2 linked regions of the Homo sapiens genome follow. The protein of the gene in region 2 interacts with the protein of the main gene of each other region in a biochemical or structural test. Each region holds a gene or a part of one and is shown on either strand. Other genes may lie near its edges.

Evidence for each region.
Region 1: the proteins of AP2A2 (region 2) and EPN1 form a complex in vitro, tested with the Homo sapiens proteins (one study listed by BioGRID).

The regions. Positions count from the first base shown.
Region 1 is NC_000019.10:55,692,156-55,695,825, reverse strand, and holds part of EPN1 (epsin-1), read right to left. Parts: intron 3,141-3,670; coding exon 3,030-3,140; intron 2,876-3,029; coding exon 2,789-2,875; intron 1,101-2,788; coding exon 843-1,100; intron 679-842; coding exon 470-678; 3' UTR 1-469. UniProt on the Homo sapiens protein: Binds to membranes enriched in phosphatidylinositol 4,5-bisphosphate (PtdIns(4,5)P2). Modifies membrane curvature and facilitates the formation of clathrin-coated invaginations. Regulates receptor-mediated endocytosis.
Region 2 is NC_000011.10:923,746-927,845, forward strand, and holds the start of AP2A2 (AP-2 complex subunit alpha-2), read left to right. Parts: upstream 1-2,124; 5' UTR 2,125-2,276; coding exon 2,277-2,343; intron 2,344-4,100. UniProt on the Homo sapiens protein: Component of the adaptor protein complex 2 (AP-2). Adaptor protein complexes function in protein transport via transport vesicles in different membrane traffic pathways.

The sequences.
Region 1 (3,670 bases), on a different chromosome or scaffold from region 2:
GGTCCCTGGATGAAGGGGCTCTGGGGGACACACGAAATCACAGATGGGAATCTGGGAGTGCCAAGCCCGTGGGAATTGCCATTTATTCCCAAAGTTGCCAAAATCATCACCAAGGATTCACCGAGGGTGCGTGAGCGGGTGCGTGAGGGGAACGAGGAGGCTCAAACACTGACTGGGGGTTGGGAGTTTGGAGGGAGGGGGAATGGGTGGGGGCCCCAGCCACCCCTCCCCCTTCTAATGCCACGGGAAAGGGGTCCTCCTCTGGCCAGCTCCCCTCCCCAGGCCCCATGTCCAGTTTCTCTCCGGGGAGGTGGGGTGGGAAAGGAAGAGGGTGTAGTGTGAGTGGGCCCCAGGAAGGGGAAGGGCACTGGGGGTGGGGATCCCCCATTTCACATGCACTCACAACACTGATCTCCCAGGGAGCCGGAATGGGGCAGCCGGATGGAGCCAGGCCCCCTTCCGCCCTGGATTATAGGAGGAAGGGATTAGTGTTGGGGGCCGGGGGGCCCGGGGGCATCATGGGGGGCAGGCCAGGGCCCCCGCCAAGGGGAGAGATGTACGTGGGTGGCGCTCCAGGGACGGGAGGCACAGGACTGAGACGGAGCTGGTTCAGGGTGAGCGTCGCGGGAGGCGCGGGCTGGAAGGGGTTGGTGACGGAAGGGCCAGTGGCTGGGCCTCCTGCAGGAAGAGTAAACCAGAGACACGGAGTGGAGTCAGTGGCGCAGCCCACCTGTGTCCATCCAGCATGTGCAGGCAAAGGGCGAAGTGTCCCTGCCCCGTGAGGCACCTCCTCTGGTGGAACCCACAGGAAGGACTTGAGCAGGTGATGGGCCCACACTCACCGCCTGGCAGGAAGGGGTTGGAGGCCTTGGCTCCAGGCGGCGTGGGGCCCGGCCGGCTCACCAGCGAGTCCAGGTCGACGAGGGCTGCATTGGGCCCCAGGAATGACTCCGGCGTCTTCCGGGTGGGGGGCGTGGGAGTTGGTGTGGCTGCAGGTGGGGGGCTGCCCACAGCCTCAGCCAGAGATCCCCTGACCCCACTCATGTCAAACGCCCCAGGGCTTCGGGCCGGCACCTCTCCTGCCAGCAGCTCCAGCTCTCCTGGAAGGATCCGGGAGAGGGGCTCAGACAGGGCAGACAGCAGTGAGGCTCCAACCCGGGAGCAGTATAGGCCATCATAGGGGGCGCTTCAAAGAGCCCGGTGCCCAGAGGCCTCGGGAAGGAGGAACTGAGGTGCAGAGCGGAAGCATCGCTTGCCCAGGCCAAAACCTCACGTCAGCCCAGATTCCCATAAGGTGGGTCTGATTCCAGTGAGCAAACACAAGAGGGATGACAGAAGCAGGTGTCACCCTCTGACAACCAGAGGGCAGCAACTGCTTCAGGGTGGGGCCGTCCAGGGTCTATAGGCCCGCGGGGGAAGGCAGCGGGGGCGTGTTCACAGGTGCCTCCAGGCTCAGAGGAGCCTGCCCTCAGACGCTCCTTGAGTACACAGCCCCAGAGGGAGCTTCCAAGTGGACAGACAGCACAGACACGTGTTCCGGGCCAGCGTGAAGACATCTGTTGGCTAGAGGTCTGATTTTCTGTTTTTTTTTTTTTTTTTTTTTTTTCTGAGACGGAGTGTCGCTCGTTTCCCCAGTTGGAGCGCAATGGCGCAACCTCAGCTCACTGCAACCTCCACCTCCTGGGTTCAAGCGATTCTCCTGCCTCAGCCTCCCAAGTAGCTGGGATTACAGGCGTGCGCCACCATGCCTGGGTAATAATTTTGTGTTTTTAGTAGAGACGGAGTTTTGGCCATGGTGGTCAGGCTGGTCTTGAACTCCCGACCTCAGGTGATCCACCCACCTCGAGCTTCCAAAGTGCTGGGATTACAGGCGTGAGCCATTGCGCCTGGCCTGATTTTCCTTTTAAATAGATTTAAGAATTCTACCTAATGTTGAAAAAATGCACACATTTGTATGGGACAAAAAAGGGCCTAAAAGAAGGAAAACTGCATGCTGGAAGGTTGCTCTACGTTAACCTAGATAATGAGAGGAGGGAAGCGTGGGTGCAGCTCACTCCCTGCAAGCTGCCAGCCTTTCATCAGTGGAAACAGGTTTCTGTACCACAACCTGCTCTTCACTAACAGCTCACTTAAAATAAAAATAAGAGATCAAGGCTGACCTGACTCATCATGGGACAGACAGGTATCAGCTGAGGGCCGCGGCGAAGCACCAGTGGCCCACTATGACCTCGGGCACTCCTGACGAAGAGCCACTCAGGACTCAGCAGATGGGCCCGTCACCGGCGATGGGCGCCAGCTTACGCCAGCTGAAAACCCCAAGGAGCCAGGGCAGCTAAAGGCAGCACCCATGAGGACGCACCCTGGCCAGCCCAGGAGCCACCAGCAGGTGAGTGGCGACCCGGAAGGGGAGCCTCGGCTGCCTTCCAAACCCCTGTCCACGCAGCTCACTGCACAGGACAAGACAGTCCGTGTTCTTTGAGACACCTGGAGAGTTTGCAAGGCACTCAAGCAACGTGGAGGCAGAGACGGGTCAGAGGTCAACATTCGGGTGGGAAACCTTGAGAACAATTCTCAGTTTTTCTCTAAGTCTGCAATTTCTCTAAAATAAAGATGCACACTTCTTTTAAAGACAGGTGGATGGTTCTGGCCCACTCTACCCAACTGAACTTTTCATCCCTAAGTCCAGCCGGCCCTGCCTGGAGTGGGACAAAGACAGCAAGGGACGGGGCTCCCGAAGAGCTAGGGGAGGCTCCCTCTCGCCACTGGGCAGGGGAGGGCAGGGGCTCACCTGCGCTGCTCCCGGAGGTCGGCAGTGCCGTGCGGAGTCGGTCAAAGTCAGAGAACTCGTCGGGCTCCGTGTCGAATCCCCCGGCTGCTGTGGGGTCAGGATGTTCTGCTCAGCCCCTCCCTGGGGCCCCGCCTCAGCCCCCACCTCCAGTCCAGGCGTCCACCCCTCCCTTAGGACACTCAACACTAACTTCTCCCACTCACTCCCACCCGGGGCTCCATTCCCACCCCCATTCCAGTACCTGTTGTGCCATTGGTGCTGGGCTTGGCAGGTGACCCTCCCCAGGGATCTGAGAAGGCCGGGGCCGGTGTCCAGGGATCGGAGGCTGAGGGCCCACTGACCGGGACCCCACCTGGGTGAGGACAGAAGAGCATGAGGGGCTGGCAACCTTGACTGCCCAGATGGCTAGGGAGGACCATTGCCTCCAAATCTGTGGCTGTTCACACAAAAGCCCCCCTGCCCCCCAGAAACCCACCCCACCCGGCCTCCCGCACACACACTCAAATTCCAACTGGGCTTCTCTGCCAGGCTCTGCCCCTGGGACCCCAGCTGGGGTGAGGGGCTTCCCCGCAGCCTCTGCCAGACCTGCCCAGCCCTCCCTCAGCTCCCACGGCTCGGCCACCCCTCCCCTGTCCAGCTGGGTGTCAGGCCCCTTCTCCACCTGCACCTCCCAGCTCCACCCACCGCCCTCCCCAGATGCCTACGTCACACACGCTCTGCCTTGGCCAGAGCCTCTCTGCCCCTCGGCTGAGCTGCCATCCCCTCCCCACAGCACACCCCCCATGTCCTCCAAGGCACAATCTCACACACCCTGTGCTGGGCTCTCATCTGACCCCCGCCCTTGCCCCCTCCCCTGCACCCAGGACGCCCCACCACTGCCCG
Region 2 (4,100 bases):
CCGTGGTGAAATGCCATCACTACAAAAAATAAAATAAAGAAAAAGAAACTGTTTCCTAGGACTGCGCACTCCCGAAGCTGGCCTCTCCCGAGCCGAGGAGTGGCAGTGGTCAGAGAGGCCCACATGGACTCAGACCCAAGGCTGGGACTGGAGTGAATCATCTGGAGGGCTTGCGTGTCTGCAAGGGCAACGACGCTGGAAGGAGGTGGGAAGTCTTTTGCATGGCTGCATGTCGGGCCTTCTGGGACCCCTAAACACTCTTGTGTGGACGGGAGGATGTCTGTGGGAATCCCAGAGCTGGCACTGAGGAGGAGTCTTCCGAGTGGGCGGAGGGGGATGCCTGCCAGGCCCAAGCCCTCCTGTGGGCAGCCCCTGCAGCACCCCCATTGCCCTGCTCTGTGAGTGGCTGCTGGTGGGGGGGCACAGTGGTCTGCTTGTCTCGGTCTTCTGCACTGCCACTGCCAATGGGAGCTTGGATTAGGCATGCCAGCCTCCTGACGCCCAGAGCCCATGCTCTGCCCACGTGTGTTAGTGGACGGTCCTCGTGACTGCTGGGACTGTCCTGGAGAGCAGCCCAGGACCCCTCACATGGCACAAGATGCTCTTGTGTCCAGAATGGCCTTTATTTGTTGTCAGGGACAGGGGAGGGAAGCTTCTTGGTGGAAGGGAGAGGCTGAAGAATGAACAGCCCCGGGACCACTTTCTCTGCCAGGAGGTGGCACTGGGAGAGGATAGGGACTCCGGAGGGGTGTACCGTCCTCCAGGAAGCCCTCTGCTGGGTCGGCTCCGTGCCTCTGTCTTGGGAAGTGATGGACTTGGTTGCCTTATGCTGACTGGGGTCTGTCACAGATCTTGGTTTTCCCCAGGAGTTCTGGAGGCCCAGAGCCTGGGTGCGGCACCCGGTTCATTGGGGAGGGGCATGGGTCCTGTGCCCTCCTCCTGGCCGGGCTCCACCAGGGCTAAGCTCTCATCTGGGGCTGCGGAAGTGAGCCAGGGTGGGGACAAAGCCCTGGCTGGTGGGTCTGGGCCAGTTCCAGGTACAGGGTCCAGATCCCCCCACTGCAGCAGGAGGGAGCTTCCTGTTCAAAGCCATCTGGCTCTGGGAAGGACAGTGAGGCAGGGCCATCTGCTTCCCCACTCCCTGGGGTCTCTTCCTGGCCGGGACCTGGAGCTGTGCAGCCTGGCCCAGCAGGTCCTCCCTTGCGATGTGTCCACAGGGGTGGGCCTAGGCCTCCAGCTTGCAGTGGTGCAGAGGGCTGGGGAGCAGAGGGGGCCCTGGCAACAGTGGCCAAAAGTCCTGGCGCCGCCGAGGGACTAGATTCCGCAGGGGCTGCCGCCCCCGGCCGCTGTCACTGGGGTGGGGTGGGTGGTTGTTTCTCTGCAGGCCCAGGTGATGTGGAGGGGGCACCTGGGCTGCCACACAGACCCTGGGCTGGGTCGGGCACGGGGCCTGCCTCGCCCCCAGCTCAGGGACCGCAAGAGATGTGGCCCTGGCGGCTCAGGGCGGCAGGAGGGGCGGGCCAGCCCCACCGTCTCAGGATACCGTGCTAGGGGAGGGTTTCCTCGCCAAAGGCCGTCCAGCGGCTGTGACCCCTTCGCCTGGAGCCCCAGCTTCCTCCCGGCGCCGCCCTCCCGCCCCGGCCCCCGCGGAACAAACAAGGCCCTGGCCTCGGAGCTGCCCCGCCGCCCAGCGCTCACAGGTCGTTTATTCCAAGTAAGAAAACGGAGACTGCTCGGGGCAAGCTAGCGGGGCCGAGGCCCAGGACGAGGCCGTACGCGTGTGCCTGCGTGGCCGCCTCTTTTGCAGTGACCACCAACAACGACAGAGGCGGCCCGCTGCACACGCGGGTTCCCGCCCGGACCCACGCCCTTCCCGTGGGGGACGCGGGCGGCATCGCCAGCTTGGCGCGGCCCCGGGACGCGAACGCGTGGCTTCAGCGGCTCCGTCCATGGTGTCCGCCTGCAGGGGGCGCCCCCGCGCCTGCCTCGACCGGCTCGCCCCCGTGCCGCGGACGCGCGCGCGCTGCCTCACGCGACACCCGCCCCGGCCGCCGTCCGTCGTCGCTCGCGTGCGTGCGCGTGCGTGCTGGTGCGGGCGCCGTACGTGCGCGCGCGCGGCGGCCCAGAAAGCGGCGCTGGGACCCTGAGGCGGCCGTGGTTAGGCGGCTCCCCGGCGGCTCCTCCGCGGCGGTGACGGCGACCGCACTCCCCGCTTCCCGCTCCCCGCGCTCCTCCGCCCGGGTCCGCCAGCCGAGGCCGCTCCCGAGCGTCGGAAGATGCCGGCCGTGTCCAAGGGGGACGGGATGCGGGGCCTGGCGGTCTTCATCTCGGATATCCGCAACTGTGAGTGGCGGGGGCGGCGTGGGGCCGGGGCCGGGGCCGCCGGCGGAGACGGGGTCTGGGAGCGGAGGCCCGGGGCGGGGCCTCGAGGCGGGGGTGCAGGCTGGGATGCGGGCGGGGCCCGGGGCCTGAGGGTGCGGGCGGCGCTCGGGGTCTTGGGGTACCGGGTCTGGGGGTGGGGGCCAGGGTGCGGGGTGGGGGTCCAGGGTCTGGGGGTGCGGGCGGCGCTCAGAGTCTTGGGGTATCGGGTATGGGGGTGCGGGTCAGGATGCAGAGCGGGGCCCTGGGTCTGGGGGTGCGGGGTGGGGTGTCCAGGGTCTAGGGGTGCGGGGTCTAGGGGTTTAGGGCACGGCCCTTCATCCACATCTCCACTCCCGTTTGCTGGTCCGTGCGGGGGGCTGCGGCACCACCAAGGGGGTTCCGGGCCAAGACGCCCCTCCCCAGCATGATGTCACCTTGGTCTTTCTAGTACTGGAGCGTTTAACCCAGCGTTTTCCAAAACGGCGTGGATTTTAGCTTTGGGAGCAGAAATCTGGAAATCAGTGTCTTCCCAGGAAACAGCTTTGTGACCTGGGTTCTGGAGGCTTATTAACCCCTGATTAGATCTCACCTACGACGATTAAAATGACTCATTCCCGGAGGGAATCTGGACACGAGCAGCAGTCGGGGTGTGGGATGGCCTCGCTGCCTGCTGCTCCAATCACAGACCTCGTTCTCAGCCCCGTGCCTGTCCCCTCGGGGTGGGAAAAATCCACACCAAACCGTTAAACAAGCCAGGAAGGCTGGGCCTGTTAGAAGGATGTGCAGGGTGGCTGGGTGGGTGCACCGGTCCACCAATTAATTTGACTTTGGTGTGCAGAACCTCCTCTTGGCTTTCAGAGGCCATCTCCTTATTTAATTTGAGGGAGAAACAAAGCCAGTTTCCTGTCTGCTGCGTTGATTTTTTTCCTTGTTATCCAGCAAATAGTTGACTTCATGATTTTTGTTTTTCTTTTTTTTGAGACAGGGTCTTGCTCTGGCTCTCAGGCTGGAGCGCAGTAGTTCCATCACGGCGCACTCAACCTCCCACCTCAAGTGATCCTACCACCTCAGCCTCCGGAGTCACTGGGACTACAAGCGTGCACCACCACCATGCCTGGCTGATTTTCGTGTTTTTTGTAGAGATGGGGGGGTCTCGCCATGTTGCCTAGGCTGGTCTCGAAATCCTGAGCTCAAGTGATCCACCTGTCTTGGCCTCCCAAAGTCCTGGGGTTACTGGCGTGAGCCACGGCACCCTCATAATTTTTAATGTGTATTTTGAGGGACTGTTGTGATCTTCCCTTTGAATTCTCATCTCCTTAGACGGGATGGAGGATCAGGAGGATAGTGGTTCTCCCACACTCTGTGGAAGGGTAGAGGACCATCTAACCCTTCCTGTACTCTGTTAAAAAAAAAAAAAAAAAGCATAGAGCTGGGTGCGGTGGCTCAAACCTATAGTCCCAGCATTTTGGGAGGCTGAGGCAGGTGGATCTTTTGAGCCCAGAAGTTTGAGACCAGCCTGGGCAATGTGGTAACACCCTGTCTCTACAAAAAAATACGAAAATTAGCTGGGCGTATTGGTGTACACATCTATAGTCCCAGCTACTTGGGAGGCTGAGAGAGGAGGATCACTTGACCCCAGGAGGTTAAGGCTGCAGTGAGCTGAGATCGCGCCATACTCCAGCCTGGGTGACAGAGTGAGACCTTTCTCACAAAAAAAAAAAAAAAAAAAAAAAAGGCTT